Linked DNA regions of Homo sapiens. The protein of the gene in region 1 interacts with the protein of each later gene in a pairwise test. Each region holds a gene or a part of one and is shown in the gene's direction. Other genes may lie near its edges. The genes, in order: PCNT, DNM3, AKAP6, KIF5C, MADD, SHTN1 and YY1AP1.

Region 1 (4,079 bases):
CCACGCCCAGCCTTAGATGGCACCTTTTGATGCACTGTCTGCACCTCGCCTCCTCCAGTCCAAGGCCCAGCGCAGCCTCCCTGGACACACAGCCACCCACCCTTCTCCTCCTTCTCCTCTGGGACACACATCTGTCCACCCTCCTCCTCCTCCTCCTCCTGGACACAGTCGCCCACCCTCCTCCTCCTGGACACACAGCCGCCCACTCTCCTCTTCCTCCTCCTTCTCGACACACAACCACCCACCCTGCTCCTCCTCCTCCTCCTCCTGGACATGCAGCCGCCCACCCTCCTCCTCCTGGACACGCAGCCGCCCACCCTGCTCCTCCTCCTCCTCCTGGACACACAGCCGCCCACTCTCCTCCTCCTGGACATGCAGCCACCCACCCTGCTCCTCCTCCTCCTCCTGGACACACAGCTGCCCACACTCCTCCTCCTGGACACACAGCTGCCCACCCTCCTCCTCCTGGACACGCAGCCGCCCACCCTCCTCCTGGACACACAGCCGCCCACTCTCCTCCTCCTGGACATGCAGCCGCCCACCCTGCTCCTCCTCCTCCTGGACACACAGACACCTACCCTCCTCCTGCTGGACACACAGCCACCCACCCTGCTCTTCCTCCTCCCCCTCCTCCCTGCTGTTTGCTAAATGTGCCCCAACTACTCCTCCAGGCTCTGAAACCCAGAGGCTCTAACACCAGAAGTGCTGGGCAGGTGTTTTATGGTCTCTAGGGTGGCACGGAAGCATGCTTGGTGCTGAAGCCTGCTGAGACCTGGGCTCACCCGAGCCCCTCGCAGCCCTCGTGAGTGTCCCGCACGTCGCTGGGACGTTTCTTGCATGAGTGCAGGTGCCGCCTGTTCCTGGGTCCACACTGCGTGCACCTCATTGGCGTTTAGAGCCTGAAAGATTCTTAATTCCACAGAAATCAGGGAAGGATGGGCCTAGGCCCGCAGTTCTGAGGAGACCCATGAACCTGGTTCGTGTGCTTGTCATGTGCTCTCGGGAAATACATCCTGTGTGGAGAGCCCTTCGCATCTCCTGCGGCAAACAGTCTTGGGGCCCTCATGACAGGAACGTTTCTTTGAATTTTTTTTTTTTTTTTTTTTTTTTTTTTTTGAGACAGAGTCTCGCTCTGTCGCCCAGGCTGGAGTGCAGTGGCGAGATCTTGAGATCTTGGCTCACTGCAACCTCCACCTCCTGGGTTCAAGCAATTCACTGCCTCAGCCTCCCGAGTAGCTAGGATTACAGGCACCCGCCACCATGCCTGGCTAATTTTTGTATTTTTAGTAGAGACAGGGTTTCACCATTTTGGCCAGGGTGGTCTCGAACTCCTGACCTCGTGATCCACCTGTCTCAGCCTCCCAAAATGCTAGGATTACAGGCGTGAGCCACTGCACCCGGCCCAATTTTTTGAATTCTTAAGAGAAAGCTCAGCCCTGCCTGCCAAATTCTTAGAAGTTACACACACAGAAACTCCAAATTCATCACATAAACCACAATTTTGTGTTTTCGGTGCTCAGATATAGAACCTTCCCATCCTTTTTCCCTTGTATGAAGCTTGTGTCCTCAATCACCGCAGAAATAGGTTATGACAGTTGCCTTTTAAGCAAGGAGATGTAAGCCTTGGTTCTGTTTCTCATAGAATTAAATAAACTTGAAATGTGCAGGGCTCATTGTGGAATCACCCGAGTGCTCCGAAACTCCCTGAAATCCACTCATTAACACCAGACAGGTGCGACTCCTGGTGAGCCAGGTATTCCACCGTGCACCTGTTCTGTTTCACCTGCAGGGTAAAGAAAAAGTACTGGAAGATTGTCAGCTGCCGAAGGTCGATCTCGTAGCTCAGGTGAAACAGCTTCAGGAAAAACTGAACCGTTTGCTGTATTCCATGACCTTCCAGAATGTGGATGCTGCCGACACCAAATCTCTGTGGCCCATGGCCTCAGCACACCTGTTGGAGAGCAGCTGGAGTGATGATTCCTGTGACGGAGAAGAGCCTGACATATCACCCCACATAGACACATGTGATGCCAATACAGCCACGGGGGGTGTAACTGATGTTATCAAAAATCAGGCCATAGACGCGTGTGATGCCAATACAACCCCAGGGGGTGTAACTGATGTTATCAAAAATTGGGATTCCTTGATACCAGATGAAATGCCAGATTCTCCCATTCAAGAAAAATCAGAATGTCAGGACATGTCTCTTTCTTCACCGACCAGCGTACTTGGTGGCTCCCGCCACCAGAGCCACACTGCAGAGGCTGGGCCCCGGAAGAGCCCGGTCGGGATGCTGGACCTGTCTTCCTGGAGCTCCCCTGAGGTCCTCAGGAAGGACTGGACCCTGGAGCCCTGGCCCAGCCTCCCCGTGACACCCCACTCAGGAGCCCTGAGCCTGTGCAGTGCCGACACATCCCTGGGGGACAGGGCGGACACCTCGCTGCCACAGACCCAGGGGCCGGGGCTGCTTTGTTCCCCAGGCGTGTCTGCAGCAGCGCTGGCACTGCAGTGGGCCGAGTCTCCGCCGGCTGACGACCACCATGTGCAGAGGACGGCTGTGGTAGGTGCCTGCTCTGCTCCCAGGCCTGCTGTTCCCGTGGGAATGTGGTCTGCCCGGCGCCACGGCAGCTGCCATTGTTTGTTCACCTCCTGACAGCACACACCTCGCAGTGCTGTGTGGGGCCAGCTCTGCAGGACTGGCATCATGGGCGCATTTAGATTATTTCAGTTGTTCAGGTATTTTTAAAATGCCTGAGATGCATTTGCCTGCCTCAGACATACCCTGGGCATGCTTCTCCACTGACGCTGACTCCAACGGGCATAGCCCAGACACGTCTTCGTGTGTGATGGGCATAGGGTTCTTTGTCCAGAATGGTTTTTTAGATTTATTTTTAGGAATGCTTCCTTTTTTTTTTTTTTTTTTTTTTTTTGTGAGATGGAGTCTCGCTCTGTCACCCAGGCTAGAGTGCAGTGACGCAATCTCGGCTCACTGCAGCCTCCGCCTCCCCAGGTTCAAGCAAATCTCCTGCCTCAGCCTCCCTAGTAGCTGGGACTACAGGCACACGCCACCACACCCGGCTAATTTTTGTAGTTTAGTAGAGACGGGGTTTTACCTTATTGGTCAGGCTGGTCTCGAACTCCTGACCTCATGATCCACCCACCTCAGCCTCCCAAAGTGCTGGGCTTACAGGCGTGAGCCACCATGCTCAGCCAGAAATGCTTCATATTTTTAACAGGTTTCACATATGCTAATTAATTTTAATTTATGAGTTAGATCGTATTATTTCTAACATAATCATTTTGGGATTTTGTGTATCTTGAGTAAGATAAAATTAAAAATCAGGTATGGTTGGGCTCATGCTTGTAGTCTCAGCACTTTGGGAGGCTGAGGCGGGAGGATTGCTTGAGCCCAGGAATTTGAGACCAGGCTGGGTAACACGGTGAGACCCTGTCTCTACAAAAAAAACACAAAAAATTAGCTGGGCGTGCTGGTGCCGCCCATGGTCCCTGCTCTTCAGGAGGCTGAGGCAGGAGGATCACTTGACCTTGGGAGGTTGAGGATGCAGTGAGCCAAGATTGAACCACTGCACTCCAGCCTGGGTGACAGAGTGAGACCCTCCCTCAAAAAATAATAATTTAGCAGATACATATTATCTGAAACATCCATATACTATCATTTCATGCAAAACAATTTAAATCTGAAATATTTACTATTGGCTACATTAAAATATTCCTAAAGAGCTGTGGGTGAATCTGATTAAATTGTTGGAAGCATTCGACCTGTGTGTTCACCAGTTTTGAGTTGTTTCATCTGGGGTCTATGTGGGAAGATAAATTCAGGCCTTTGAAAGTTTTCACCTGGCAAAGTCAGCGCTATGATGTAATTACTCATTATTTTATGACCATTTAAAAATCTCTTAACAGGAGAAAGATGTCGAAGATTTTATCACAACATCCTTTGATTCTCAAGAAACATTAAGTTCACCTCCTCCTGGATTAGAAGGAAAAGCTGATAGAAGTGAGAAAAGTGAGTTGGTTATCTTTCATTTTTAATTTTTTATTTCAGTGGTTTCCTAGCA
Region 2 (4,079 bases), on another chromosome or scaffold:
AACTTCTTTTCCTTAACATTACATTTGTGAGTCAAAGGATGTTACTTTTTAAAGCAGGAAAACTTCCTTGGTCTTTAGCAGAATTAAATCCCTGGGAAAAGGAAAGGAGGACTAAGCAGATGTGAGAGAATTGTGAGATCTCAAAGATCACAAAATTCTAACCAAGCCCCCTCCCCAAAACTAAACAAAATTAAACTTCTCAATTGAATTTTAATACATGTATTGTGTGAATGAGAGGCATCACCGTGTTCCGTACTGTGACCCTCCAATTCTAGAAACAAAGAGATTTTAAGGAAATGGTCTCCTTGGTAACTGAACTGTAGGAAACTGTAGGAAAACCCTAGAAATGTCTCTTCTATTTGTGAAGGGTTTAAAATGGTCTCAGTCATAGAAAAGAAGGTTTAAGATCCAAACATATTACGGGTTGCTAGAGAAGGGTTAAAGTAAGAGAGGAAAACATGTGGAACATTTTTAATGACCTCACATTCCTTTACACTGAGCAGAGCGACATGGTGCAGTAATGCCTGTTTATCTAGCCTAGAGAGTTTGAGCTGGAATGAGGTTTCATGTGTGAGAACTTTTACAAACCATACAGAGATGTATAGGTTATAAGGTGTTATAATTAAAAACATAAATATTATTTCAGATCTCAAATTTAAGTATAATCACTTTGTTATGTTAGGTGAAGTATTTTCTAAATGCTATCATCTAAAAGGGATTCACTTGACCCCTGATTGTCATGCAGAATTCTTGATTTAAATATTTGTACCAGATTTAAATGTCTGTATACCACTGGCATACAGACTTCCCAGAAAGTCCCTGAAGTGTCTGGAAACTCCCGGAAGTCCCCCTACCTTCATTCCAAACTCCAATTTTAGTGTCACAAAGCTAGGTTAGCAGAAGGAGAGAAGAGTATCTCTAAAATTTTGCTTAAATGCAAAATAAAAAATGTTAACCTCTATGCCCTATTTAACTATGTCGCTTGATACCTGTACTGTTGCAACAGCTGTCTATTGTTCTCCTGTCTCGATGTACCTAATGCCAATGTAGCCTATAGACAGTAAAAATCACAGCATTTTTTGGAAGGGGCACTAACTGTGTGCTGGGCATCATGCTAGACAACTTGTATTCATTCCTTCCTTTAATCCTCACAATACTTGAGGTAGCTCTACCCTCATTTCACAGATGAGGAACCTGAGACTCAAACAGTTTACATTATTTGCCCAAGAACAGTAAGTGTTAGAACTAGAACTTAAATCCACAGCCTATGCTCTGAATCCACTGTATTGCACAGTAGGCAAGTTCCAGTGTGTCATAATTGCTGTGGAAGATTCAAGGCACATCTTTGGTCAGAATGCTGAAACAGGCCCTTATTTTGCTTCATGGTTTGACAGTTGATTCTTAATTCAGCTCTGCTTTAAATCTATTCTTGGAAGAATCTTCTTTTAAATTGTATTTAATAGATTCTAAGTGATATTCCAGTAATATGTAAAGTTTCTAAAGAGCTTAACCCAACCAATGGTCAATGCCAGGAAAATTGTCTGGTTTTGAGTTTTGAATTGCACCATGCATCCAACTGCATATACATACCCAACAGTGGGAGATTTGTGCAAATATCCATGATTCCCTGCATACCTGCAAGTACATTTAGAAGTGAATGCGTCTGTAAGGAAGGGAATGAAATATTCCTAAAGCCAAATTTGCTGCCTTCCCTCTAAATCTGACTTTCTTTTCTGATGTTTGAGTTTCTATTCTCCTACTCATCCAAATGTCAATGCTTGAGATGTCTTTGGTTGTTCCTTTCTTCCTTGCCCTTCACATCCCAACAGCACCAAGTTCAGTTCATTATTCCCTTATAATGTCATTGTATGTATCCATTTTTTATACTACTGCGTTATTAAATGAAACATTTACCATCTTATGAACGATCTACAATAGCCTTCTAACAGATTTCTTTATTTTCACTACCACCCTTGCAAAGTCTTTTTCAATGTTAGCCAGATTAATTTTCCTAAAACTCTCTTTTATTGTTTCACTTACTTGCTTAAACGCTTTCGCTGGCCCCTCATTGCCAAGCAAATAAAGTTCAAACACTTTTCCTTGGCATTCAAGGCCTTCGCATCTGCCTCAGGATTCCTGGCCAAACTTACCTTCCACAACTATCGTGCATAAACCTCTACTCCACAGAGGGTTTCCTAAATACATCTTGTGTATTAGATTACTTTCACCTTTGAATCACTCTTGGTTTACAAAATATGTACAGAAAACACTTTATTTCACCACAATAAACCTTTGATTTAGCTGAATTTTTTGATTAGTAGAATTATTTACATGTTTTGATGCCTTTAAAACATAATGAAGCTATGTGTTTTAGGTTCTTGTCATCTCTGAATTACAAATTTAACCATATCCTAGAAATTTGGAGCATCTGACAGCTGTTCTGTTATCTGCCTGATTTTTTAACAATTAAATATATACTTGCGTTTGGCCTTTCTTAAAGATATTCATGAGTCTAGATAAGAGTTAGCTTTCTCATGTAACAGAGAAACTGAAAAATTCAAACGGCTTATTTTTACTAGGCTTAAGTTAATTGCTGCACTACTGTAAAATAATGATACTTAAACAAAAATTTACTTTTTTAAGCACTCAATCACAGTGAGATAATGGGGTAAGGGAATGGGCACCGGACTTCAAGTCAGAAGGTTATGGATTCAACTGAATGCTGTGTGACCTAGCACAAGATACTTAAATTCTTGGAACTTGTTTCTGTATCTATAAAACTGGAATACTAATACATGTTTCTTCAGTGTGTGATAAGAATTGTCATATAACTTATGAAGCCACTTGGTATATACCATACTTCATCGATTCTCACATTCACTTCTTTTTATTTAATATTTCTGAAATGAAGATGCATCTTATACTCAATGGCATCTTGACATCCTGTCAAAGTTTGATTGATGGTATTTTTTTTTTGTCTGAATAGTCAGCACATATGATAGTAGTGTTTCTTAAAATCACTGGTGTCTTAGAGTTGATGAGATACAGTAGCTGGCGTTCCCACTCTCAGTGTTGTGCACCATATTCATCCTCTCCATTTTCATCCTGCAACAAAATGCCCCTCCCCCTGAGACTCCCACATAGTGTTCATACTTTAGTTTGTTTTTATATATTAGCTAACTATGCAACCTCATGTCAGTCCCCATCACTGTTAACTAACTTCTATTGTAAACTTCTGGAAAACAGAGTGCATCTCTTTCACTTGTTTATAAATCAACCTGCATAGTTATATAAGATTCTGTATTTAATAAATATTCACTTACTGGTGCTAATTTCACTTTTGAGACGACACTGAAACTTGGCATCTCAATAATTTTCCAGTGATTTTGGTAAAAGCTAGGGAAAGGACTGCGAATGCCAAGGAATGGAAAACGTGTGATTACATAGGTTTCTTCACATCACTGTTTTCTGTTGAAAATACTGCTTCTTACCTCATAGTACCTTCCCTCTTCTATAAGCCAAACAGCTCCAGACAATATTGTGAAATGCTCACAAAGCCAGCAGGCCCTGTTCTGGTGATGGCTGGGTTTGGCCTTCTTCTACTCATCTCTATCATCCTTCAGTGTGGACAGCCAAAAGACAGAGGGAAACTGTTACTGTCACCAGTACTGGGGATAGAGACAAAACAAAAGTAAACAGACGCTTGGTGCTTCACTTTTCCCAGGGTGGACTTTGGTGGACTTTGGTGGACTTTGTCCAGACTCTGACTGCCACAGCCATGTTTCTACCTCCACTCAGTCACTCATTTATTCCCATTTTTATTTCTCTGTGGTGATCTGACAGGTTAAAGATTTCATAAATTCCGAGCTCCTAGCACAGTTGTATTCTTCAGAGGACCAAAATACCCTGATGGAGGAATCTGCTGAGCAGGCTCAGCGCCGGGATGAGATGCTTCGAATGTATCAAGCACTGAAAGAAGCCCTTGGGATAATTGGGGACATCAGCACAGCCACCGTGTCCACTCCGGCACCCCCTCCAGTGGATGACTCCTGGATACAGCACTCTCGCAGGTAAGAAGA
Region 3 (4,079 bases), on another chromosome or scaffold:
TATTATTATTATGAAGTAGAGAGTAATAATCTCACTTTATAGGATTAGGTGTTATTATTCACATTTTGCAAAAACCAGTCCTTAGCCAGGCGAATAAACTTGGCTAAGGTTATGTAGTTAATAAGTGATTGGGCCAGGATTCCAAACCATTGCGATCTGGCTATGCAGCACACATGCTTACCCACGGCCATCTCAGTTTTATGACATCTTTACTGTATATACCATACAGATCAGTCATCTATACTCTATCACACGTACCCCACCCCTCCTCATTCTAATTGGAAAATCAGATTTCATATGTAGAATGAAATGTCATTTGCAACACTAAGGTTGATTTCACTGTAAGGATGAGCATGAATCTTGATCAGATGTGAATATTTACTTTGTACCCAGAGATTTAAGTAATGAAGAGTTGATGCTTAGACTTTTGCCACTGCCCTTGCTTGATATAACTTTCTAGCAGGATCTCTGTATGGAAAATGTTACATCAATAATTGTGGGCATGATGGAGTTGCACTCAAAGCAGGTCTTACCTGAGTCAGTAATGATTCAGCTTTGTTATAAACCTGTCTTATCAGCTATATTTGTGGTGCTTTGTTAACTTTAAGATGTTTGTATTCCCTGCTGTTGCACCAGGTTCTGTTCTCAACCTGGTGTTGAGAACAGAAGCAGAAACTTCTCTCACAGTCTGGAAAGTGTAATCTGAATCTATCTCTTAGGTTAAGAAGATAGAGGATTTATTTTGCTGAATGTATCAGTGGCTGAAACCAAACTCTGTCTATCTCTGACAAAGTACAAGAATGACAGTCTTGTGTAATAACCTGGAAGCCTTGTGTTTGAGGAGAGCTGATATAGTCATTTCTGTATCATCTTGCTCATCCCCAGCTATCCACGCCCAGCGTCATTATTGGGCTCTAAGGGCTGTTCTTTGTTTGAGTGTGGGGCTAATGCACACACTGACAGCATGTTGATATTGATTCCTGTATGGTGAATACTTAGAAATATTATTCCACAGGGCTCATTAGCCTTTTCTAGGTTCCAGGAAGAAGTTAACCTTTGTCCTAACCTGCTCCAAAGAGGCCCAAGCTTGTGTCTGCATGAGGTACAGGAATGAGAGGCTGATCAGAAAGCATCAAAGCTGCTAGGTACAATGACTACAGGAGTTAGGTTCCAATTAGGAAATAAAATAGCCAGTGGAATTTAGGGAAGTTGGTGGTCTTGCTACATGTCTCTGATTTTCTTCTATTTATAATCCTAGAACCCATGAATGGCAGTTTGTTTTGATCGCATGGATTCAATTCAATTCAATAAATATTTATTGAATATCTCCTATATGCCAGGCATTGTCAGGGAATCTATAGCAATGAGCAAGACAGATGCAAATCTCTTCCCCAGCTACATTCTAGAGGGGAAGGGAAAAATGGGTAAATTGGTAAAATAATTTATTTCCTCTAATACTGCAATACTATTTCTATTTACTTTTTATTCCATGTGTTATTAGAGAAGCCCATTATCTGTGCACATTTGTATAGGTACATATAGCTATATGGTTTATATGTGGAGGTAAACTTACTGCATTAAATAATAACTTTTTTTTTTCTTGCATGGGTTTGGATTAGAATCTTTCTGGATGTGGACAAGACCAATATGGCAATTAGTATTTTTTTGGTATAAACTATTTTGAGAAATAAAATTATAATCAGTCAAATAGTGCATGTCTATCTCAGTTGACAAACTTGACATATGGAAATATGAAATGTGTGTGGCAGATCAGTTAAGGAGAGATATTTTTGTTTTTATAAAAGATATTCATCACCTTTAAAAATTGTCCAGAGAGCCCTCTAAATTGAGCATTCCAGCCAGCCTGCTGATGGAGGTATGTATCATACAAGGTACCAACTACACACTTAGTTGTACAAGGACAGGTATACCAGTTACCTTCAGTCTCATCTAATCGCCCTAGTGTGCCTTACAGTATTGCTTTAAATGGGAAGCATTTCTCGAAACAATCATATTGACTGAACTCTGTAGATGGGCCCTGAGTGTGGTTTTTCAGAGGAATAGCAATCCATATAGGACTTTGGCCATGGCAACAGAGTTTTAGGTACAGTAGCCCCTTCCGCGCCCTTATTTGTGATTTAGCCTTTTGTGGTTATGGTTATCCGTGGTCTGAAAACATTCAATGGAAGATTGCAGAAATAAACAATAAGTTTTAAATTATGCGCTGTTCTGCATAGTGCAGTGAAATCTCTCACCATTACTGTTCTGTCCTGCCTGGGATGTGTATCATTCCTTTGTCCAGCATATCCATGCTGTATATGCTACCAGCTTGTTAAGTCACTTAATAGCCGTCTTGGTTTTCAGATCAACTATCTCGCTATCATAATGCCCATGTTCAAATAACCTTTATTTTACTTAATAATGACTCCAAAGCTCAAGATTAGTGATGCTGGCATATTGTTACAATTGTTCTGTTTTATTATTAGTTATTGTTAATCTCTTATTGTGTCTAATCTATAAATTAAACTTTATCACAGGTATATATGTATAGGAAAAAACATAGTATATGTAGGGTTTGGTGCTATCCATGGTTTCAGGCATCCACTGGGGGTCTTGGAACATATTCCCTGATAATGAGGGGGACTATTGCAGTTTGAATTAATAAGGCATACAGTTTCTTCTCCACGAGCACATACCGGTCAGTAATTGAATTCCTGAGTTGGCTTTAAGATTTGGTGAAGATAAAGGACAGACTTTGTTTTCCTCATAAGCCACCAGCCATATTTTTCTCTGTTCTTCAGCCATGGGGCATGCTCCAAACTCTTCCAGCCATCTTGCAGTGGTGTGCTTTGAGTCACAAGGGTAAGTAGGGAGAGAATGTGGAACCTTTATTTTATTTTCAGATTTTTTTTTGGAGACAGGGTTTTACTCTGTTGTTCAGGCTAGATTGCAGTAGTGCAATCATTACTCCCTGCAGCCTTGAAATTCTAGGCTCAAACGATCCTCCCACTTCAGCCTCCCAAGTGGTTAGGACTGCAGGTGCACATCACCCCACCTGGCTAGTAGAGCCTTTAGAATGGGGTCTCAAACTGGCTAATACATGAGCTAAACCTAGCCTGCAGCTTGTTTTGTATGGCTGCTGGGCAGGCTTTATGGGTGTGCAACCTGTGTAGTTGCATAGGGCCCTGCACTGAGAAGGGCCCACACTTAGTTTAATACTCTGCTGTAACCATCTTGGAATTCTTAATAATTTTTTAATAAGAGGCTCCACATTTTTATTTTACAGTGGACCTTATGTAGCCAGTCCCATATGGCCCTTTTGGTGCCCCCACTGATACTGCCTGAGCCCTGTAGATGTTTGAGTTTCAGACTCCCCACTTCCTCCTACTCTGGAACAATTCAAATAGAAATTGTAGTGCTTAGAAAAACTAAGGGACCATTGTCAAAACAACCCAGAGCAAGGCCCTTGTAGATGGTAATTCAGTGGCATGCAAAGGAACTCAGTGGCATTTCTTTTATAGGCAATGGGGGATATATTACATTATACTTGAAGATATTTGGTAGGTGAGGTTTATTTGTCACCACCATTGCTTTCAGGGGAGAAATCAAATCTTCTTTGCAAAGCAAGCTAATTAACCATCCTGTTGGTTCAATGTTTATATTAATTCTCTTGCCCTTTGTTTACTACTTGATTACTTTTATCACCTGCTTTGTTTAACTCTCATTTAAATTACACAACATATTTATGCTGTCTGGGTATTTTTTTTTTTAATACTATCCTTTTCTCCTTTTTTTTTTTTTTTTTTTTTTTAATTCTCTCTCTCCAGGAGGCCAGAGGGCCTATAATTCGAGGTTATATTACTACAGGAAAAGTTCATTTTTTTTTTTCAATTTAAAAGGGAATTATAGTCAATATTTATAATGAACCCTTCTCCAGCAAGGTAGTTCCAGCCATGCTAATGTTCAGAAGTCCATATCTGCCATTACTGTTTATAATAATGAGATGCTGGTGACCAACTCCTGGACCTTATGGTGGGTGAAACATTCCCACCCATCATGTCACAGTGAGAAGTGGCTGT
Region 4 (4,079 bases), on another chromosome or scaffold:
TATAACATATAAATCAGAAGAGTGAAGAAAAAAAAGAGCATGGTAGCGGGAATCTGAGATATTACCACAGTTGAGCACCAAATGTTGATATAAGCCTTCTAGAGGCAAAACAGAAAGCATAATGCATAATGTGTCAGGTTACAGAGGGCTTTTTTTTTTTTTTTTTTTAATCAAAAGAGAAGTTGGGCTTTTCTTAGTGGCTGTTGTATTTCCAGTACCAGGTAATTCCATGTATTTCTTAAGGATAAGGCTCTACCTCCCTCTTGTCATCCCTGTCCCCATCCCCTAGAGTACCATGAGCTCTGCACAAAACCTATAGTAAGATCTCAGAGCTAGGGCCTCCAGCCGGTGACAGGAAACAGAGCCTTTCAGTGTCTTCTGAAAGTTGAGCTTACTGATGTTGGGTGCAGGCTGACAGAGGCCATTCAGGCTGGTCTAGACGTTCATCCTGGAGATGCGCCCAGCACCAGCCGAACTTCTGGTGGGAAGTGGAATGAAATGGACAGGGGTGGTCTTTTGGAGAATCTTATTATCCGATGGAGACGAAGCATACCTTTGGGAACTGGGAACCTCTTTCTACAGAGAGTCTGGGTTAGGGGCCTTGTTGCACCTGCTTGCTATCCTAAGTGCAGGCAAATGAGAAATGTTTTAATTTCCCCCTAGGAATGAGAAAATGCATTATGTTACTCTGAATATCCATAGCCTCAACAGATACCGACTTATGGAAGAGAATGTTGAGACTGTCAGGACTAAATACTTAAAGCAAAATCAGGAAATCGGAGGTTGTGCTGTTCATGTGCCACTATCCACATGTGTCTTTTGAGCTCTCAAAATGTGGCTAAGTCCAAATTGAGATGGGCTGAAAGTGTAAAATATACACCAGATTGCAAACACTATTGTGTGAAAAAAAAAATCTCAGTAGTAATATTGTAATGTAAACGATCTCAACATGTAATACCAGTTACATGTTGAAATACTATTTAGGCTATATAAAATATATTACAATTAATCTTACCTATTTCTTTTCACTTTTTAATGTAGCCACTAGAGAATTTAAAATTAAATATGTGGCTTGGCCGGGCACGGTGGCTTATACCTGTAATCCCAGCACTTTGGGAGGCCGAGGTGGGTGGATCACCTGAGGTCAGGAATTTGAGACCAGCCTGGACAACATGGTGAAACACCGTCTCTACTAAAAATACAAAAATTAGCCGGGTGTGGTGGCAAACCCTTGTAATCCCAGCTACTTGGGAGGCTAAGGCAGAAGAATCACTTGAACCCGAGAGGCAGAGGTTGCAGTGAGTCGATATCGCGCCACTGCACCCCAGCCTGGGTGACAAGAGTGAAACTCCATCTCAAAAACAAACAAACAAAAAATATGTGGCTTGTGTTATATTTGTATCTGACAGCTCTGGTCTAAACATCTAGAATTAAACAAAACTTTTTTGAGGAGTAAATTTCTACTGTGTTTTCTAATTCCTATGTTCTCTCTTTGGTTCTCTTTCAACAGATATGACTCCACGTAGCATGTCAAGGACTACATTAATCACCAATTCCTTTATTTTTCCCCCCCTACAGTTTCCATTTTTTTTTTATACTTGCTTACTCCAGCCATCTGCAGTACACCAGTTTCAGGTCTTTTGAGCTGTGTAGAGTTTCTGTGTGTACAGATGTGTGCTCGGACTTTTCTCTTTTTGAGAAATCTGAAGGAGATGGTTGCAGAAGATCCACTTACTACTGAGAACCATTACCACCGACTCGGCCTCCGGGGTGTTGGGTGGTTTCTGGGTGGTTCCTGGAGCCTCCTCTGGGCAGTGCACTGTCCCATCTGTACGCCCTAATGTGCCATTCCCTAGAGGGGAACAACCAAGTGCCGTGGAGGCAGATGATCATGGTCTGCCTCAACTGTCTGGTTTCCTGTAAAATAAACACATTGTTTTATATTTTTAGGGAACAAAAAGTGCTGCTATAGGGTTCAAAGTTTTCCTTCTGAACACTTTTCCGAAACAAATTACCCCAAAGACACATTTTGAATATCCTGGTCACATCTTTGGATCTGTAAAATATACCTTTTAGTATGGCACCTGTTAAAATGCAAAGCAAATTTCTTTGGGGCAGAAAAACAATCTGACAGTAGCAGTGTAGAATTTGTTCATTCAAATACATCTGTGTAAATGCAAAAAGTCATAAAATTCACCTCCGAGCTGCTTGCTTTTGAACCTGCAGCAACTAGTCTTAGCCGGCCCGGTTTGAACATCGTTCTTTCAGAAGTGCTGAAAATGCTGCAAAGTTGGATAAGTGGAAATGTGGCTGCCCCTCTCCTCACTACTTCCTCTCTGATCGTTCTGAAGCTTGCATTGGGAATGGCTGCTTTCTCTAACCATTTTCAGCTTGAGTGGGTATTGCTGAAGAAATCCAACATCATTCCAGCAGTTGAAAAAGGAAGCCTTCGGGAGAAAGTGCTTGTCAAAATTTTGTTCTTTGTGCTTGTGTATGAGTAAGTTGCCATGAATAAGTTATTATTTTAACCCATAATTGGCGACTGTTTATATGAATTCTTTCTTTGGCACCAAATAGGTTTCATCTTCTTAGGCACAATTAGAAAAAATCCACATAGATGGATATTTTACATTTAGTTATTGCTTTATCCAAATACATGAATCTAAAGCTGAATCAACCCTTACTTCCAGTTGTGCTTATTAAGAAGATCAATTTCCAAGTAGTAAAGTTTTCAGGGAAACTGACTGTGCTGCTATTTGTTTTGACAAATTTGGGGGTAAGTCAATGACAACCAAACCAATCTCGGTGGAAACTCCTATCCTATCATGTTGTGTGCCCAAGATGAGTGAGCTGGCACTGTGCCCTGAAGCTTTCACCACTGTAATGAAATATATGCCAGGGGAGACTTTGGGCTTTTCTCATGACTGTGTGGGTCGAAGGTAGCTCAAGTGTGTGTGTGTGTGTGTGTGTGTGTGTGTGTGTGTGTGTGTGTGTATGTGTGTAAAGTGCTAAGAACTGTGCATTGACATCCAAACATTTCTTGTACAAAATTTCCCTAGCAAAGCAAACCTGCTTTGACTTAATTTATTTGTTAAATGTTGCACTTTGTTTATGTATGTTTTGTTTTTGGTGGGGAATAAGGAGAGAGAGGACGACAAATTCTATTGAAGTATTTATTTTGTGAAGATGGCAATTTTGCATTTGTTTAAATTTTTTTCATTCTTTAATTTTGTTATCAGTGCCAGCCCAATATACCTGCTCTACCATTATTTGCGGTCTGATAAAAGGGTCCTTGTGGGGCAGGTTTTGCAAAGCTTATCAGGTAATAACATATGCCACATAACCTTGTTGATATGTTTGCTTCTGATTTGGGAAGCTAAACATTGGTGTTTGAGAGGATTGCCAATTATTAATTGTCATTACCACTACTCTCCATTACTTTTTGTTTGGAAATTGAACAAAGGTCAGTAATGGTTTTTGGCTCTTGTTAATATCCATCATAAAATAGATTGTTTTAGATTCTTTCCAGGGTGATTTTTCCCTGGGTACCCCGTTTCTACTTCTAAAGAATTGCTTGGCACTTTCATGTTTCAAAGGGAAACATTCGCTTGTAGTTCCATTTTACTTGATCTCTACAAGGGACTGACAACATTTGCTTTACTTTTATTCACAGAGAAAGTTGGCTTTGATGTCTCTTAAAGATAATTCTGCTAGTTGCTGATCAGCCAGTCAGTTCACCTAGCTTCAATCTTTATAGGACTTCTAATCTAATTTTCCTATAGTGTGACTAAAAGGGAGGCAAATTATTGGAACGGATTATTCAAATGGATCCTTAAATATTGCTATGTATAATAAGCCAGTTATTATATCAGGACCATGTTCTCTGTAGGCCACTTTCTAAAAAAGCCACATATGTGCAATTTTCAGGTTTTTAGACTATTGCTCCCTGTACTTTAAATGTAAAAACCACACTTCTGAACAACTAAGCTCATGAATATGATTTTGGTTATATGCAGCTTTTGACTAGCATGTATTGTGTCTTTTTCTCCTCTATGAATAATTTTATATTTCATGCTACT
Region 5 (4,079 bases), on another chromosome or scaffold:
ATTCCGTGCCAAGGAGCTGGCCCACCAGAGAATGGTTATGGAGAGCCTGGCAGCGTTCATAGAGCACAGCCTCTCACCTCTCACGCACTCATAAGCCTGTCAACCCAGGGCTTAATGAGTGCGCCAGGTAGTATTGGTTAGTTTCTAGGGGCAGTTAAAACCTTATGTGAAAGCCAGGCGCGGTGGCTCACGCCTGTAATCCCAGCACTTTGGGAGGCCGAGGCGGGTGGATCACGAGGTCAGGAGTTCGAGACCAGACTGACCAACATGGCGAAACGCCGTCTCTGCTAAAAATACAAAAGTTAGCCATCTGGTGTCACGCACCTGTAATCCCAGCTACTTGGGAGGCTGAGGCAGGAGAATCGCTTGAATCCAGGAGGCGGAGGTTGCAGTGAGCCGAGGTCGCGCCACTGCACTCCAGCCTGGGTGACAGAGCAAGACTCCGTCTTAAAAAAACAAAAAACAAAAAACGAAACCTTATTTGAATTGGTTTGTGCTATCTGACAGTTTCAGGGGCTTTTCTGAATTTGATTTTTTATTTTTTTTATTTTCTGAGACAGTGTCACTCCGTCACCCAGGCTGGATGGAGTGCAAGGTGGTGATCTTGGCTCACTGTAACTGCCGCCATCCAGGCTCAAGTGATTCACATGCTTCAGCCTCCCGTGTAGTTGGAATTATAGGCACATACCACCTCGCCTGGCTAATTGTTGTATTTTTAGTAGAGACGGGGTTTCACCATGTTGGCCAGGCTGGTCTTGAACTCCTGACCTTGAGTGATCTGCCCACCTTGGCCTCCCAAAGTGCCAGGATTACAGGTGTGAGCCACTGCACCTGGCCTGATTTTTTTGTTTTCTCTGGATGGTATGACGAAATATTTAACTGTGGTAGGAAGTGCAGTGAGAAACATGTATTTTTTTTTTTTTTTTTTTTTTTTTGAGACAAGAGTCTCGCTCTGTTGCCCAGGCTGGAGTGCAGTGGTGCAATCTTGCCTCACTGCAAGCTCCGCCTCCCGGGTTCACACCATTCTGCCTCAGCCTCCTGAGCAGCCGGGACTATAGGAGCCTGCCACCACGCCTGCCTAATTTTTTGTATTTTTAGTAGAGACAAGGTTTCACCGTGTTAGCCAGGATGGTCTCGATCTCCTGACCTTGTGATCTACCCGCCTTGGCCTCCCAAAGGGTTGGGATTACAGGCGTGAGCCACCGCACCTGGCCAACCTCATGTATTCTTTAACTGACCTCTCATTCCTAGTGGTAAAAAATGTCAGGTTACTTGGGTGCAGTAGCTCACACCTGTCATCCTAGCTACTTGTTAGGCAGAGGCAGGAGGTTCATTTGAGCCCAGGAGTTTGAGGTACAGTGAGCTATAATTAGGCCAGTGCACTCCAGCCTGGACGACAGAGTGAAACCCTGTCTCTAAAAGAAGCCAACAGAAACAAACAAAGTTGTCAGGAGTCTAAGACATGTTCTTAGGTGAGGATGGGAACATTGGATAAATGGGCAAAAGGACATCAGAGCTGGCAGTGAAAGGAGCGAACTAGCACTGCCAGGGAATCCACATGTGGCCGGGTAGGCTAAGGATGGAAGGGTGTCAGTGTCACTGGCCTTCATTTGGTACATTTGAAGAGAAGAGCGATTGAAACTCTTTCATTGCATGCTGATGCTTTGTCGCATTTGCTGCACTTACCCTCTCACCCATCTCCCATCCTCATACCCTGACCCCACTCCCCACAACAGCATCTGCAAGATGGGTTGCTTCCCTGCACATACCCTCAGGCCCCTGGCCCTCTGTGCTGGATGTTTTCTGAAAACCAGCGGTCCCTGTTTCATGCATGTGTGTGTTCAGTACCTGAAGGCTCCCTGTGTCATTTACCCGCCCCTGGCTTGAGAGGCCAGTTTTAAGGGTGGTCTTTTCTTAGAGCCTTGGTTGTCTCCTGGTCACTTGGCTTCCAGCTCTGAGGTGCCCAAGAACCAAGGTTATGTGCATTCCTCAAGCTTTGGGAGAATGCTCAGATTATCTGGCTTACTGCTCCTCGGAGGGGTAGAGGGGTTGCGGTATTGTGGTACACCTACTAATTGTGTATTTTGTGTCCCAGTATTTGGGCTAAATACTCTAATGGAGATTGTTACTGAAGCCGGCCCCGGGAGTGGTGAAGGTGGGTCTTGCCTGTGAGCTGTGCATGATCTTTTTTTTTTCTCTAGCATCTTCTGTGCCTGCCCGAGGGCCATCCTTCTCATGGAGCAAGCAGCGTCACATGAGTGACCTGCTTGCCCCGTCCCCCGTGACGCCCATGCTTGCCCATGGGGCTTGCTGCTGGTGCATGTGGAGTGGCCTGAGTCTCCATCCCCACCTCCTCCACATTGCCATGGCTGGTTTCTACCTACGTATGATGCCTTGGTGCTACCCTCACCCAGCCCTTCTGAGGAACGGGCATGGAACATGGCTACTTAGGGCTGTGCTGGCATGAGCTCCTGTACTACAATAGTGATGTCTCTCATTCCTGCCTTCCCTGCCACAGGAAACAGGAGGGCGTTAGTGGATCAGAAGTCATCTGTCATTAAACACAGCCCAACAGTGAAAAGAGAACCTCCATCACCCCAGGGTCGATCCAGCAATTCTAGGTAATAAATGGTAGAGCTGTTTTAAAAGTTCTCAGGCAGAGGTGGGGTGGTTCCTCTACAGAACTTTAGGGATGCTCAAGAGTGGGAGAGAAGCTCTCAATGGGGTAGATGTAATCAATTTCTTGCCAGCACTTCTCATTCTGGCTTGATCTCCATGCAACTGAAAGCTTACAGTGTTGAGGGGGGTTAATCAGCAGCGGTGGGTATTTGGACAAATCGCGTGCTCCAGAGAGGTGGGGATGTGGTGCACTTGGACATTCAGAGACATGGCTTTGTGTTTTACCCCTGGAGGCAGACATCTAGTCTGGGTGAAAGGTGGGGGGTGCTCTGCAAAGGAGCTGATGACCACAGAAGCGGTGTGTGGACCCTGTAGTGAGAACCAGCAGTTCCTGAAGGAGGTGGTGCACAGCGTGCTGGACGGCCAGGGAGTTGGCTGGCTCAACATGAAAAAGGTGCGCCGGCTGCTGGAGAGCGAGCAGCTGCGAGTCTTTGTCCTGAGCAAGCTGAACCGCATGGTGCAGTCAGAGGACGATGCCCGGCAGGACATCATCCCGGATGTGGTCAGTGTTGGGGGTAGGGAATCGGAGTAACTGGAGAGAGGGATGTGAACACCACAGGCAATTTGCCAACGCTAGCCCCTGGGTTATTGTTGCAGGAGATCAGTCGGAAGGTGTACAAGGGAATGTTAGACCTCCTCAAGTGTACAGTCCTCAGCTTGGAGCAGTCCTATGCCCACGCGGGTCTGGGTGGCATGGCCAGCATCTTTGGGCTTTTGGAGATTGCCCAGACCCACTACTATAGTAAAGGTAGGGATCGTACTTGCTGGGCACCACGCCATCCCTAACTCTGCCACTTGTCTCCTGAAGAGAAAATATATGTGTACCCAGGACACGTTTCCCAGTGCCACGCTGCTTCCCATTAGGCTTTGGGATTTTATTTTCTAATGCATGTTTATACGCAGTGGGTATTCTTTGTTACGAAAAATAAGACATCAGCTCATCTTTCCTTGAACTTCTTCCATTCCGCACCCTCCTGTATCCTGGCTCCTCCCACCTCATATCTGCGCCTTGATTCCTACTCACTACTTCTCTTGACCTCTTGATATTTTTCCCTCAGAACCAGACAAGCGGAAGAGAAGTCCAACAGAAAGTGTAAATACCCCAGTTGGCAAGGATCCTGGCCTAGCTGGGCGGGGGGACCCAAAGGCTATGGCACAACTGAGAGTTCCACAACTGGGACCTCGGGCACCAAGTGCCACAGGAAAGGGTCCTAAGGAACTGGACACCAGAAGTTTAAAGGAAGAAAATTTTATAGCATCTATTGGTACGTATCAGTGTGTTTGGTGTGGTGGAGGGGTCCTGGCTTCTTAAATATCCCTTTCTCCTCAATTCATCCAGAATCCTGCCTTTCTCTGCCCCATGCTTTGCTTCTTAGAGAGGGAAGGGGGCCTGTGTCCAT
Region 6 (4,079 bases), on another chromosome or scaffold:
ATAAAACGAACAGGGTTCCTAGGAGAAATGGCTAATTTTAGGAAAGGGGCAGGAAATATACAAGATGAGCCTAGGGCATCTTGTAGTGTGGAAACTAAGGAAATGCACCAACTGATAAGCTGACATTGATGGAGATACTGTAGTCCCTGCTTACCCATGGAGGAAGCTATGTTTCAACACCTGCAGTAGGTGCCTGAAATCATGGATAATAACAAACCCTATATATTCCAAGTTTTTTCCTGTGCATACGTATCTGTGATAAAGTTTAATTTATAAGTTAGGCACAATAAGAGATAATAAAAACTCATAATAAAATAGAACAATTATAACAATATACTGTAATAAGAGTTATGTGAATGTGGTCTCTCTCTCTCTCTCTCAAAATATCTTGTGGTACTGTAGTCATCTATTTTCATACCATGTTGACCATGGGTAACTGAAACCCTGAAGAGTGAAACGGTAGATAAGAGGGAAACTACTGTCTGTCAGAGACACAAGAGCCGATGGAAAGAACATCCAATGTCCAAAGACGGAACTCTGAACAACAGAATATTGGATTATAATTCAAAATTTGAAGTAATATTCATGAGTTGATACTGATATAAATAAATGATTAAAGACAAATCTCCCATGCAGAGCAATTCCAAATAATTTATGTAGATGTTCCCCCTCAAAGCGGTGTATCTTAACTCCCTGATTCTTTTTTTTTGAGACAGAGTCTCGCTCTGTCCCCCAGGCTGAAGTGCCGAGGCATGAGCTCTGCTCACTGCAAGCTCCGCCTCCCAGGTTCACACCATTCTCCTGCCTCTGCCTCCCGAGTAGCTGGGACTACAGGCGCCCGCCACCATGCCTGACTAATTTTATGTATTTTTAGTAGAGACAGTGTTTCACCGTGTTAGCCAGGATGGTTTCGGTCTCCTGACCTCGTGATCCACCCGCCTCAGCCTCCCAAAGTGCTGGGTTTACAGGCGTGAGCCATCGCGCCTGGCCCTAACTCCCTGATTCTTAAGTGTGGGCAGCACATAGTGAATTCCTGCCAAAGACTACAATATGGAAAAGGGGGAACCAGTAACTTTACAGTGGAGAAACCTGACAAACACTATGTCAGCTAGATGATCAAGGCCAACATCAACAATGATGATAGCATGATAGTGTGATGTGATGAATTGGCGTTTTACCTCTGTGGTCTTCCCCTAAAAACCCATAAAGCCAGTCGACTCATGAGGAAAATATCAGCAAATCCCTATTGAGAGACGTTCTGCAGAATACCTGATCAGCACTTCTCCCAACTGTCAAGGTCATAAAAATGAGTAAAGTCTGAGAAACTGTCATAGTCAAGAGATGCCTTAAGGATTGAAGGGTAGAAAAAATAATCTGTCCCTCAAACCTTGTAAGTTCATAATTGGGACAGATACCTGTAACAAAAGACATGAACAAGCAAGTTTATTAATGCATGCAGTGCACATCGCAAGGGAGAAAAATAAGCAGTGGCTCAACATACTGTCTTCAACAAAGAACTATACATTTAGAAAAGTGTTAGGACAAAGGAAAGCAGTTCCAGGCTTCCAAAGGCAGGAGAATGTGGGAAGGTGAGTTTATGGGGAAACTCCTGGGGTAAAGTCTACTCGCAGATTTCTCTGCCACCATCTCTGAGGTGATATGGGTTGTAAAGGAGAATGGGTATCTTGTTTTTAGGTGGGAAATGGGGAGAAGATAGACCTCTTGTCTTTGTAATTCTGTGTCCTGCTTTTAGGCAGACAGAGGGAAGGCAGATAGTTTCCTTCATCCTAATTATCTTTAGCTCGAAGGTCTTTCATATTTTGGGGAGATAGGCTGGTTTCCTTCAGTTCTCCCCTTTGAAACTTTACTTTCAGAAAGTCTCACATATTATGTGCTAGGCTGGTAGCTTTGGAGAGGTATGGTTGTAGATAAGTGATTGGCAAAGGGGAAGAAAACCAGATTGGAACCAGCAGAAAAGAACAGATTTAAGTATATTGTCTCATATCTTATTGAGTCAGTCTCTTAGTCCTGAGACTAGGTTAGTTTAGGTAAACAGTCATGTTTTATTTCAAGAGGTGGTGTTATGGGTGATCTCTTTAATGTTAGGTTTCTATATGTATAAGCATACAAATACTTAATAAGAGACATTTCTATGAAAAAAAAGGAAAAGCAAGGTTAATGTTTAGAGCAGTCTATAAATTAGTTTCTGAGTCTGGAGAGCAGCCAGTTGAGAGGATTTATAAATCTTAGGCTCAAAGTGTCTTCAGCTGGAGTGGGGCAGGCAATTGCAATCTGACAGATTTTCCTTGTTTGTAGTTTAAATATCATAAAGGTTGTCGATACAAAAGCTGTTGTGGTGATTTCTCTTATGTTTGTATCAAGTTGTCCAGCTTTAGCTTGCATAGCTTCAGAAAAAGCCCAATTTTAATTTCAGTGATTCCAGGTCAAAGGGTGGGAGAAAAATTGGAAATGTTAGTTTGGAGACTCACAGCCAGGTATCAGAAAAAACTAAAAGAATTTAGGATCCATTCCAGATTGCAGGTAGTTAATAAAATCTCAAAAACAATGAACAGGGCTAGAATCTAGTAATGGGTGAACTATAGTTTCTGAACTATTATTTTTCTGAAAATATTTTTCCTCTCTCACACTAATTTCTACCAAAAAGAATCAGTAAGACCAGTTTATTTGTAAAATAAGTTTTTGTCTATTATACTTGGCCTAATTATTTACATAAATGCAGCAAAAATAGTGATTGACTATGTAAGCCCTTTTAAAATCTGCTTTGCTGGAACTCTTCATAAGGAATCTCGGATTAGGCTTACAAAAATGCCTCCTTAGGCTAAGAAGCCAAGCTTAGGACTCAACATCAGATTGTGCCTATAGTAGTCTTAGATAGATAGCTCTCTTCCCTAGATTCCTGATGTTCCTGGGCCTGTCAGGAAGGTGACATTCTTTACCCTATAAGGCAACCATTTGAACCATGTATTCAAGGTACGAGGCCAGTATTTCCAAGGTGCCTTTATTGGCCCCATTAAACTGAGGTTCCTCTAGGGACCTCAGTTCCCAAAAACTGGTCATATCAGAAAATACGACATTCTCATCAAACTTTGGCAATATAACCAGTATTTTCAATTGTATCCTATTAAAAGAAGAACGGATTCTTCCTGAACTTATGCAAATGCCTATATTATCCTAAAAATAAGAATACTCATGAATAGTTTCCAAATTTTGGAGGGATCAAGTAAGGAAGAAAAGTAAATGTTTCAATTCTATTTGCAAAAGTATACTTTACCAAATTGTCTTAAGCCATAGATAGCGCAAAAGAAGAAAATGTTTTCCTAAATCTGGAAAATAAAAGAATCAGTAGTGTTTCTAATAAAGTCCTAAAAATCACAGTCCCTCATCATGTTAGTCCCATGTAATTAATTCTTAATTTTGCTCGATGTTAGCAATTTTAGGAGTTCAGTTTCTCCTTTAGATTTCTGGAGTTCATACCTAGTCCACTGGTATTTCCTTAAAGTTATCAGAGACCTGTACAGGTCAGAGTTCTTTTTGTTCTTCCCATATACCTCCTTGAAGACCCAAAACTTTAGGATTATAATTGCTTGCAAAAAGCTTTTAGAAAGAGCATCAGAATAAAGCAGTTATGATAAATGTGAACAACAAGACTTAAAATGGCCATGGTTAAAGATCTGATGGGAGTTCATTATGATAATAATGCAGTTGACAAGGAAATTTGGTTGTTTGTGAGATATAACAATTTAACATAATCAGAATTATGACAGGTAGCATGTTAGATTTCTAGGAATATCATAGTTTTGAAACACATTAATAACATTCATACAAATAATAACTCAAAGGTTAGCATTACATGTTATTTGACAATGTTTCTTATATAATTTAGCATGCAGAATAAACCTAATGGGTTTATTTAATATGTCACTTTCAGACTTCCAGGGAGCCCTCTGGAAATCCTAAAGTTAGTTTAAGGTAAAAAAGACATCATTTACAATTTGATTTTGGGAGGTTTGTAAAAAAGATTCAAAACAATCAAAATAGGATCACAGGTCACTGTGAAA
Region 7 (4,079 bases), on another chromosome or scaffold:
ACGTGATTTAATACCAAATTATAGTATTATCTTACACATCTAGTGTCCTGTGTTTTTCTTCTGGAGATATAAAAATGACACTTATGGAAGGAGAAATATGGATATAGTAGTTTTGTCTCTAGAAATGCAGAGGTGCCTAAAATTGAGAGGCTGAGAGAGGGAGACAGAAATGAATGAGACTGAATTGTCTCATTCCTTTTATGGTTCTTTTGTTCCCAACCTCAGGAGGAATCTGGGAGAACTTAATGAAAGTTAAGAAAGAATGAAATAAAAGTAAAATTTGGAATACCAGGTTTGTGAGGGAGATTAAAGAAGTTGGAATCTTTTTTCTTTTTTTTTTTTTTAAGATGGAGTCTCGCTCTGTCACCTAGGCTGGAGTGCAGTGGGGTGATCTCGGCTCACTGCAACCTCCGCCTCCCAGGTTCAAACAATTCTCCTGCCTCAGCCTCCCAAGTAGCTGGAATTACAGGTGCGTGCCACCATGCCTGGCTAATTTTTACATTTTTGGTAGAGATGGGGTTTCACTATGTTGGCCAGGCTGGTCTTGAACTCCTGACCTCAGGTGATCCACCTGCCTCGGCCTCCCAAAGTGCTGGGATTACAGGCGTGAGCCAGCACGCCTGGCCTGGAATCTTATCCTGGAAGAAAAAAGCATTGTTGAAGGTCTGTTATCCTTCAGAGATTTAAAGGGGAAAGGAGGTAAAACATTTTTGAGCATACACTATGTGACAGGTATTACTAGGTACTTTTTAAGTGTTTGTTTTACTTTGTGAATAAAGTGTTACACGTAAGAAAGAGTAAGAGAGGCCGGGCGCCGTGGCTTACGCCTGTAATCCAACACTTTAGGAGGCCGAGGCTGTCGGATGACAAGGTCAGGAGATCAAGACCATCCTGTCTACAGTGAAACCCCGTCTCTACTAAAAATACAAAAAATCAGCCAGGCGTGGTGGCAGGCGCCTGTAGTCCCAGCTACTCAGGAGGCTGAGGCAGGAGAATGGCCTGAACCCGGGAGGCGGAGCTTGCAGTGAGCCAAGATTGCGCCACGCACTCCAGTCTGGGCGACAGAGCCAGACTCCGTCTAAAAAAAAAAAAAAAAAAAGTCAACTTTTATTGCCAGTGAATGGGACTCCCTTTAGACCTAATGTTAGTTGAGGAAAGACTGTGGAAACTCTTTGGGGAGTGGTAGGCAGATGGGAGGGAATCAAGTTAGATAAGGACAGCTCTACCTAAATGCAAAAATGCATTCACAGGCTTTTTGAAGCCCTCTTTTTTCCTAGAAGTTGATTTATCAGAGATTTATTTTCTTATAGCCAATGAATTTCCCTGTTTGCCAAAGCAAGTGGCTTGGATCCTGGCCACAAGCAAGGTTTTCATGTATCCAGAGTTACTTCCAGTGTGTTCCCTGAAGGCAAAGAATCCCCAGGATAAGATCCTCTTCACCAAGGCTGAGGACAAGTAAGTGTTTACTCTGGGGGATCAAATATCCCAAGGAGAAGATGTAGTTCCTTTGAGGAGTTTAGGGGAAGTAAGACTTGTATAATAAGACATGGACACAAAAGGAAAAGCAGTATAGATGAGCAGAGTCCTCTAGAACGTGCTTGTTCTAGCAGTGCCAAATACTGCTTTTTGGGGGGATGTTACACACATTTTTAAAATGTTTTAGACTGGACATGGCGGCTCCCACCTGTAATCCCAGCACTTTGAAAGGCCAAGGCAGGAGGTTGGCTTTTCTAATGTTATTATTTATTTAGAGACAGGATCTTACTCTGTCACCCAGGCTGGAGTACAGTGTTGCAATCACAGCTCACTGCAGCCTTGAACTCCTGGGATCAAGTGATCCTCCTGCCTCAGCCTCCATGGAGTAGCTGGGACCACAAGCGTGTGCCACCATACATGGCTGATTTTTTTTGTACAGGTGAGGGTATCTCTGTGTTGCCCAGGCTGCTCTTGAATTCCTGACCTCAAATGATCCTCCCACTCCTGGCCTCCCAAAGTGCTGGGACTATAGGCATAAGCCACCACACCCAGCTAGATTATGAACATTTTTATGGCCCTTTGTGTGTATTGCCACACTGTTAACAGCAAATATGTATATATGTAACCATGATTATATATGTTATGTTAGAGGGTAGTATTGGTGCCAGTTTAATTTGTCTGACGGGGTACCTATTATTCATTTTATATTTGTTTTATTAGAATCATTCTCCTTCCCATGTATTCTCTTTGAACTTCCTTTGTGTTGTTAATATACAGCTCATCATGATCTGACATTTATTGATGATTTATGACTAGTTTCTCTTGCTCCTACTTAATTGTGAACTATTTGATTCTTATTCATAGTACTTAATCACTACTCACTAAATACCTGAAATTTTCTACTGAGTAGTCACCAACTTGTAGTAGTCACTACAAGAATTAGTTGTAGAAAAAGTAGATTGGCCAGCCATGGTGGCTCACACCTGTAATGACGACACTTTGGGAGGCCGAGGCAGGAGGATCACTTGAGGCCAGAAGTTCAAGATCAGCCTAGGCAACAAAGTGAGAACTGGTCTCTACAAATAATGAAATAAAACATTAGTTAGGCATGGTAGCAAACGTTTATAGCCACAGATACTCAGGAGGCTGAAGTGCGGGAATCGATTGAACCCAGGCATTCAAGACTGCAGTGCACTGTAATCATGCCACTGCTCTCCAGCCTGGACAACAGAGCAAAACCCTGTCTGAAAAAAATGAAAAAGTAGATTGGGCCACACGCCATGGGCTCATGCCTGTAATCTCAGCACTTTGGGAGGCTGAGACTGGAGAATCGCTTCAGCTTAGGAAGTAGCAGCTGCAGTGGGCTGCGATCACGCCACTGCACTCCAGCCCAGGTGACAGAGTGAGACCTTGTTTTAAGAACAAGTAAGAAAAAGTAGATTGTAAAATGTGTTAGTCTGGGGAGGCCCTTTAGAAGGAAGGACTGTGAAGTGAGATTTAGTGTTATTGCTCCTTTCTCAGTTTGTTAGCTTTAGGACTGAAGCATTTTGAAGGGACTGAGTTTCTTAACCCTCTAATCAGCAAGTACCTTCTAACCTGCAAGACTGCCCGCCAACTGACAGTGAGAATCAAGAACCTCAACATGAACAGAGCTCCTGACAACATCATTAAAGTGAGTGTTTCCTGCATGCACTATCCAGGCACCTCACCAACACATATCTGTTCTTTTCTCTTGTTATTCTCAAAGAAAAGAAGAACCTTCTTTTATCTAAAGCTAATTTCTCCTACTTATATACTAGATTAATTCCCCTGTTGCCTTTTCAGGGACATTGATTCATTCATTACGTTCCTCTGGAGTATCTTCATCCTCTTAAAAGATTCCACAAATCCATGTTTCCCTGTAATAATTCTCTTTCTTGAACTTTCTAGAAATGATATGCAGTATTCCACTTACATGCTTTGGGTTTTTGTTTTGTTTTGTTTTTTTGGTCAGACATAATCTTGCACTGTCACCCAGGCTGGAGTGCAGGAGTATAGTGGCATGATCTTGGCTCACTGCAGCTTCCGCCTCCCGGGTTCAAGTGATTCTCCTGCCTCAGCCTCCCAAATAGCTGAGATTACAGGCGTGCCCACCACGCTCAGCTAATTTTTTGTATTTTTAGTAGATACGGGTTTCACCATGTTGGCCAGGCTGGTCTTGAACTTCTGACCTCAAGTGATCCACCAGTTTTGGCTTCCCAGAGGCTAGGATTGCAGGCATAAGCCACCGTGCCCAGCCTATATACTTTTTCTCAATTTTGTGTTTGTATGTATGCATGTATGTGTGTGTGTGTGTGTGTGTGTGTTTGTGTGTGTCTGTGTCTGTATGTATGTATGTATGTATGTATGTATGTATTGAGATGGAGTTTCGCTCTTGTCGCCCAGGCCCAGCCTATATACTTTTTCTCAACTCTTTTTACTTATTGATTGATTGATTGAGATGGAGTCTCGCTCTTGACCCCCAGGCTGGAGTGCAATGGTGCGATCTTGGCTGACTGCAACCTCTGCCTCCTGGGTTCAAGTGATTCTCCTGCCTCAGCCTCCCTTGTAGCTGGGATTACAGG

Evidence for each region.
Region 2: the proteins of PCNT (region 1) and DNM3 interact in a two-hybrid assay, tested with the Homo sapiens proteins (one large-scale study listed by BioGRID and IntAct).
Region 3: the proteins of PCNT (region 1) and AKAP6 interact in a two-hybrid assay, tested with the Homo sapiens proteins (one large-scale study listed by BioGRID and IntAct).
Region 4: the proteins of PCNT (region 1) and KIF5C interact in a two-hybrid assay, tested with the Homo sapiens proteins (one large-scale study listed by BioGRID and IntAct).
Region 5: the proteins of PCNT (region 1) and MADD interact in a two-hybrid assay, tested with the Homo sapiens proteins (one large-scale study listed by BioGRID and IntAct).
Region 6: the proteins of PCNT (region 1) and SHTN1 interact in a two-hybrid assay, tested with the Homo sapiens proteins (one large-scale study listed by BioGRID and IntAct).
Region 7: the proteins of PCNT (region 1) and YY1AP1 interact in a two-hybrid assay, tested with the Homo sapiens proteins (one large-scale study listed by BioGRID and IntAct).

Annotation. Positions count from the first base shown.
Region 1 is NC_000021.9:46,414,280-46,418,358, forward strand, and holds part of PCNT (pericentrin), read left to right. Parts: intron 1-1,789; coding exon 1,790-2,560; intron 2,561-3,924; coding exon 3,925-4,027; intron 4,028-4,079. UniProt on the Homo sapiens protein: Integral component of the filamentous matrix of the centrosome involved in the initial establishment of organized microtubule arrays in both mitosis and meiosis. Plays a role, together with DISC1, in the microtubule network formation.
Region 2 is NC_000001.11:172,383,290-172,387,368, forward strand, and holds part of DNM3 (dynamin-3), read left to right. Parts: intron 1-3,843; coding exon 3,844-4,070; intron 4,071-4,079. UniProt on the Homo sapiens protein: Microtubule-associated force-producing protein involved in producing microtubule bundles and able to bind and hydrolyze GTP. Most probably involved in vesicular trafficking processes, in particular endocytosis.
Region 3 is NC_000014.9:32,332,055-32,336,133, forward strand, and holds part of AKAP6 (A-kinase anchor protein 6), read left to right. Parts: intron 1-4,079. UniProt on the Homo sapiens protein: Binds to type II regulatory subunits of protein kinase A and anchors/targets them to the nuclear membrane or sarcoplasmic reticulum. May act as an adapter for assembling multiprotein complexes.
Region 4 is NC_000002.12:149,021,568-149,025,646, forward strand, and holds part of KIF5C (kinesin heavy chain), read left to right. Parts: intron 1-1,510; 3' UTR 1,511-4,079. UniProt on the Homo sapiens protein: Microtubule-associated force-producing protein that may play a role in organelle transport. Has ATPase activity. Involved in synaptic transmission. Mediates dendritic trafficking of mRNAs.
Region 5 is NC_000011.10:47,286,873-47,290,951, forward strand, and holds part of MADD (MAP kinase-activating death domain protein), read left to right. Parts: intron 1-2,095; coding exon 2,096-2,155; intron 2,156-2,518; coding exon 2,519-2,621; intron 2,622-2,916; coding exon of another isoform or gene 2,917-2,994; coding exon 2,995-3,181; intron 3,182-3,276; coding exon 3,277-3,427; intron 3,428-3,737; coding exon 3,738-3,944; intron 3,945-4,079. UniProt on the Homo sapiens protein: Guanyl-nucleotide exchange factor that regulates small GTPases of the Rab family. Converts GDP-bound inactive form of RAB27A and RAB27B to the GTP-bound active forms.
Region 6 is NC_000010.11:116,994,722-116,998,800, reverse strand, and holds part of SHTN1 (shootin-1), read left to right. Parts: intron 1-4,079. UniProt on the Homo sapiens protein: Involved in the generation of internal asymmetric signals required for neuronal polarization and neurite outgrowth.
Region 7 is NC_000001.11:155,667,696-155,671,774, reverse strand, and holds part of YY1AP1 (YY1-associated protein 1), read left to right. Parts: intron 1-1,310; coding exon 1,311-1,455; intron 1,456-2,997; coding exon 2,998-3,148; intron 3,149-4,079. UniProt on the Homo sapiens protein: Associates with the INO80 chromatin remodeling complex, which is responsible for transcriptional regulation, DNA repair, and replication. Enhances transcription activation by YY1. Plays a role in cell cycle regulation.